Linked DNA regions of Homo sapiens: region 2 is linked to region 1. Evidence: fine-mapped expression QTL. A gene starts in region 1. The other region holds a variant in brackets. All regions are shown on one strand. Distances are between the middles of the regions.

Region 1 (2,893 bases):
AAGCTGCTGGTGGCTTTGGAGGACGTTCTAGGAAGTCCGTGGAGTGTTTGCTGGAAGGATGCTTTGCCCGCCATTTTAATTAACGTGTGCGTCAGAAAGCAGAAAGTTCTGGCAGAAATGGTAGATGAGGGTTTTCCTTTTTAAGATGTTTTTGATGCTCTCCACTGTCTCCTAAATGGAGAAAGGTATGTCCTTAAACAGTTTTTCCTCAGAAGCCAGCTGCAGTTTGCACCGTGGTTCACTGCCATGAGCACCACGGGCTCAGTGAGCCACCTCCTCCTCATGGGCCACAAGGCTGGGTCCTAGCTCTCCCAGGGCCCAGGCACAGGGGGTCTTGGGGCCTGGCTGAGGGCAGGCTCGGGGTGGGGTCTGGCACAGGAGACAGGGAATGCAGGGGTGGTGACTCCGGGCCTCCCAGCATAGGTGGGCATCAGGAAAGGATTTCTGCGGAGCACCCTGCCACAGGGCCTCTGCTCCGGCTTTCCGCCTGGACGCCTTCCTGCTGCCCCCAGGCAGCCCTCATTCTTCAGGGTGCTGTCTGTCCCAGAGCGCAGCTCCTGGAGGGTGAAGGTTCCCTGAAGCTTTGGCTGCATTCCCTTTACCCTGGGGTCCACCCAGGGTCCTACCCCAGCAGCTCAACCAGCAGCTTCTGGACAAACAGAATCCTCCCTGGTTGAGGACTGCGTCTCCCCCCTCACCATCTCAGGGGCCTGCTCCTCCCTCCTCAGACTGGGTCCCCGGCTCACCCTCCATTCCTGGAATCCCCTGTGGTCTGGGTGCCCTCACCAGCACAGCCCCTAGGACAGGTCTCCCGGCTCCTTCCCTCCAGAGTCCACAGCCCCCAGCCCCTTTCAGGCGTCTCCCCACAGGCCCTTCCCTGCTCTTCCTGCCCCCTGAGACCGCCTGCTGCGATGGCCCTGGAGCCCTGCCCTCTGCAGGTCCCCGCTCGGTGGCCCGGGGTGGGGTCCCCCGCTTCGCAGACTCCTATCCACAGTTAGGCCCACGGGGGCAAGGACCCAGACTGCTGCCAGCGGCGGGGAGGGGTGACCCGCGTGGACGCGGCTCTCAAAGGACACCAGCGCCACCTGAACAAGACCCGTGGCGCGCACGAGGCAGGAGAGCTGGGCGCTCGGCGTGAGGCCCGGGTGGGGGTCGCGAGCGGACAGCCCCGGGCCGCAGGCGGGTCCCCCGTTGCAGTGAGGACAGCGGTCGGGCGCCGGGGGTCCTGGGCCTCGGGCAGGGCCAAGTCTGCGCGTGCGAAGACCCCACGGACGGAGCCGCCCAAGCACCGCAAACCCCGCTTTCCGGGACCCACTGTGGGAGGCCCGCAGCGCTGCCCCTCGCCGGGGGCGTCCTGCGCGGCCGGGGGCCTCGGACAGCATCCGCGTCTCGCGTGGGAGGCGCCTGTCTGCGCAGCCGCGGGCCGGGACCCCGCAGGTACAACGCCGCGCGTGCGGCGTCCGGAGAAGTCTGGCCCGGCTGCGGTCAAACCGAGCCCACGTGGACCAGTTCCCCACGGCTGGTTCGCGAGCGGCCTCCGCGCACAGGCCCCGCCCCTTAGCAGGCCCCGCCCCGCCCGATCACAGGGCCCGCCCCCAGCCCCGCTCATCGACGGGGCACGGCTGCGACCCTTAGCAGGCCCCGCCCCGCCAGCCCCCAGATCCGCCCACCAGCAGCGCCCCGCCCCGCCCCGCGGCCCGCGCCTGCGCAGTGGGGCAGGCGCAGTCGGAAGCAGTGTACCGGGCCGTGGAGCGGCGGCTCCTGTACCCCCGGCGCGGACCTAAAGGGGCTCGGGCCGCTCGGGCCGGGAATGGCGGCGGCGGCCGAGCCCGGGGCCCGCGCCTGGCTGGGCGGCGGCTCCCCGCGCCCCGGCAGCCCGGCCTGCAGCCCCGTGCTGGGCTCAGGAGGCCGCGCGCGCCCGGGGCCGGGGCCGGGGCCGGGACCCGAGCGGGCGGGCGTCAGAGCCCCGGGCCCCGCTGCCGCGCCGGGACACAGCTTCCGGAAGGTGACGCTCACCAAGCCCACCTTCTGCCACCTCTGCTCCGACTTCATCTGGGGGCTGGCCGGCTTCCTGTGCGACGGTGAGCGCCCGGGCCCGATGCCTACCCGGCTGCAGCCCTGCCTCTGCCCCGTGGGCGGGAGCCTGAGCGGAGGTGGCACCGGCGCTTTCGGGGGAGTGGAGGGCGGGGTCCCAGCCCTGCTCGCGGGACGTGCCTTCGTGGGGCGGCCGGGGCCTGTGCGCCGTGGGGCCGCTCCAGGCTGCGGGCTTCCTCACCTGGGAGGTGCGGACAGCATCTCCATAGTGCCGCGCGATGGCTGCGACCCAGGGGCTGTGCCTGATGCGAGCGGGACCTCAGCTGGGGTCCCCATGGCCGGCTTCCTCTCCCAGTGGCTGGGGCAGCAGGTGTGGCTAAGCAGGGCTGGCCTGGGCCCCTGGCCCTAGCCCTTCTCATGCTGTGGCCCAGAGTCCCAGCCTCCTGGAGAGCCAGGCCGGGCCCTGCCGTCCCGGTGCGCGTGTCCCAGCCCTGCTCCACCCAGCTGCCCAGCTCTTGCTGGGGTGAGGACAGCCCTTCCCTGTTCTGGGCCCGGGTGCTCCCAGGGCTGGCTCTCATCTTCCCCCGCGGCAAGCAGGCGGGCCCCGGGGACTACAGCCCAGCCTCTGGAGGGAGCGAGGGACAGGGGGACCACAGCCCAGCCTCTGGAGGGAGCGAGGGACAGGGGGACCACAGCCCAGCCTCTGGAGGGAGCGAGGGACAGGACCGGAGTTCTGGACGTTTGACACTTACTGTGTCCTGGCCAGGGACGCTGAGGTGGGAGGGGCTATCCTTAGCCTCAGGCCTTTCTCTGGGGATAGGGGTCCACTCAGGTCAGGGTCCGCAGAGGAGACTGTCCC
Region 2 (2,893 bases), 20 kb before region 1:
AGTCGGGGGGACCTGAGGCTCCCAAGGAATTTTTTTTTTTTTTTTGAGACAGAACTGGCCGGGCACGGTGGCTCACGCCTGTAATCCCAGCACTTTGGGAGGCCGAGGCGGGTGGATCACAAGGTCAGGAGTTCAAGACTAGCCTGACCAACATAGTGAAACCCTGTCTCTACTAAAAATACAAAAATTAGCCGGGCGTGGTGGCACACGCCTGTAGTCCCAACTACTCAGGCGGCTGAGGCAGGAGAATCGCTTGAACCCGGGAGGCAGAGGCTGCAGTGAGCCGAGATTGTGCCACTGCACTCCAGCCTGGGCAACAGAGCGAGACTCCATCTCAAAAAAAAAAAAAAAAGACTTGTAGGCTGGAGTGAAGCGCTACAAACATACCTCACTGCAGCCTGGACCTCCAGGGCTCAAGCAATCCTCCTACCTTAGCTTCCCAAAGTGCTGGGCCAATGACAGCGTTTGTTTTTGAGACGGGCTCTTGCTCTGTGGCCTAGGATAGGGTGCAGTGGCCTAATCATACCTCATGGCAGCCTCAAACTCCTGGGCTCAAGCCATGCTCCCACCTGAGCCGCTTGAGTAGCTGGGATACAGGCACACACCACCACACCCAGCTAATTTTTTACTTTTAATTTTTTAAAGGTTGGGGGGCAGGGGGCGGCCGGGTGCAGTGGCTCAAGCCTGTAATCCCAGCACTTTGGGAGGCCGAGGTGGGTGGATCACGAGGTCAGGAGATCAAGACCATCCTGGCTAACATGGTGAAACCCCGTCTCTACTAAAAATACAAAAAATTAGCCGGGCGTGGTGGCGGGTGCCTGTAGTCCCAGCTACTCGGGAGGCTGAGGCAGGAGAATCACTTGAACCCGGGAGACAGAGCTTGCAGTGAGCCGAGATCATGCCACTGTACTCCAGCCTGGGCAACAGAGCGAAACTCCGTCTCAAAAAAAAAAAAATTAGCCGGGCGCGGTGGCGGGCGCCTGTAGTCCCAGCTACTCAGGAGGCTGAGGCAGGAGAATGGCGTGAACCCAGGAGGCAGAGCTTCCAGTGAGCCGAGATCACACCACTGCATTCCGGCCTGGGTGACAGAGCAAGACTCC[G/A]CCTCAAAAAAAAAAAAAGAAAAGGTGGGGGGCGTCTCACTATGTTGACCAGGCTGGTCTTGAACTGCTGGCCTTAAGCGATCCTCCTGTCTAGGCCTCCCAAAGTGTTGGAATTACAGGAGTGAACCATCGTGCCTGGCTAATAATTCCTTTTAAAAAGCAGCTTACCCTTATTTTCACGTGTGGGCCTAATTTAGTTCACTTAAAAAAATCATTTATCTTCACCCCAGCCCTATGAGGCAGGCACTGCCGGTCCTGGTCTGTGGTAGAGGGGAGGGCAGAGGAGCCGTGAGGGTGACCAGGCGCTGTGGGTCGGTGCTGGGTCCAGTCAGACCAGGACTCCTGGCCAGTCACGGCACCTTGACCCCGGCAGTCCTCGCCCTGGGCGGTGAGCACCACACACAGGGCTTACGCGAGCACACACGCATATGCACGCACCGGCAGCCTTGGGCTGAGCCGGCTGTCAGCCTCTGCCCTGCTCCAGCTTGGACCAGGCTGGCTCCTTGCAGGACCAGGAGGGTGTCCGGCGACTGGACACGGAGACCAAGCCTCCCTCAGCCCCGCCTGGGTTTGAAGGCTGCTGCACTCGACCCCAGACCCCAGAGCTGAAGGTTTACCTGTGCTCAGCCCCTGAGCCCCCGCCTCCCGCTGGTCCCTAAGCCCCCCCGGCAGGGCCGCAGAGCCACAGCTGCAGCGGCTCCTGGGAGGCTGGGAGCTCCTCAGAGGCCCACACAGCTCTAACTCCTACAAGCCCCTGATTACAGTTCAACTCCCGGATCAGCCGATCAGGTAACATGGCTGGAGAAACCCATGACTCAGCAATCTGTAGGTAAATAATTGAACTACAGAGTCCAGGGCACAGACCACTGCCTGCAGGTTGGCGCCACCACCCCCACTCTCCCCGCTGCTCGCGGGAGCCAGAGGGCCCTGCGGTCCTCGGTGGTCTTGCCAGCCCCTCGTCATCCCAGGGCCCTCCGCGCCTGTGAGGACTCCCTCAGGTAAGAACCATCCTGGGCCCAGATCTCAGCTGCAGCAGAGGGGGGCGTGGGAGCCGAGGCCAGAAATGCCCTGGACTCGTGGTTTCTTAGGGGCACCCTCAGGCTCAAGGCAGGTGGCCCTACTGTCCCCATTCCACACACCTGGACCCCAGGGGCTTGGGGTGGGCTTCAGGGCATCCAGGGACCCAGTGTGGTGGGGTCTTCCAGGGAAGGGGACACAACTCTTGCAATGTTGCCTGAGGGCCAGGACCCCCGCTCTGTGCCCCAGGGGTGCTGTGCCCAGCCTGCATGTGTCAACCTACCAGGCTGGGCTCACTGCCCCAACACACCCGCCAGGAGACTGGAGCTCGCACACCCTGGGCCAGCGTGCAAACAGCAGGCTCAGCCCAGGCTCCAGGGTGTCCTGGGCACCTGGTGTCCTGGGAGCAAAGTCTTTGCCTAACGTCGCTGAGAAGAATGTTTAAAGTGAAAGTACATTGGAGTCTGCAAACAGGACAGACCCGAGGCCTCACGTGGGACCAGTCAGGCCTCTAAGCACCGCCTCCCTAACGCCACGGTGTTTTCCGAGATCAAGGGAAAGGTCAGGTGCCCTTCCGGCTCTGCCGGCCCAGGGTGACTGTGTGCAGCGGGCTGGGCCCTCTCGGTGCTGCCTCGGGACAGTGTGTCATGGCCGTTCCACAGTGAGCTGGTGCAGCCTGGGAAAAAGGGCGCCTCACGTCCCAGAACTGTCTGGGCAGGGGAGACAGACGCCAGTCACCCTCCTCCCCTCCCAGCTGGCCCTGATGGGGCCCCCGT

Evidence for each region. PIP is the estimated chance that this variant, and not a neighbour inherited with it, causes the effect.
Region 2: its variant is fine-mapped to the expression of DGKQ in whole blood (INTERVAL, PIP above 0.99).

What each region holds. Positions count from the first base shown.
Region 1 is chr4:972,400-975,292 of GRCh38, reverse strand. It overlaps DGKQ (diacylglycerol kinase theta), which reads left to right and starts at 1,724. Exons shown (of 23, transcript NM_001347.4): 1 at 1,724-2,081. The coding sequence starts at 1,811. RefSeq lists silencers at 1,456-1,795, 1,896-2,345 and an enhancer at 2,580-2,893.
Region 2 is chr4:992,506-995,398 of GRCh38, reverse strand. All of the region lies in intron 2 of IDUA (alpha-L-iduronidase), which reads right to left. It overlaps SLC26A1 (solute carrier family 26 member 1), which reads left to right and starts at 1,995. Exons shown (of 3, transcript NM_022042.4): 1 at 1,995-2,098. RefSeq lists enhancers at 1,035-1,846, 1,847-2,658. The variant G/A (reference allele first, on the strand shown) is at 1,101.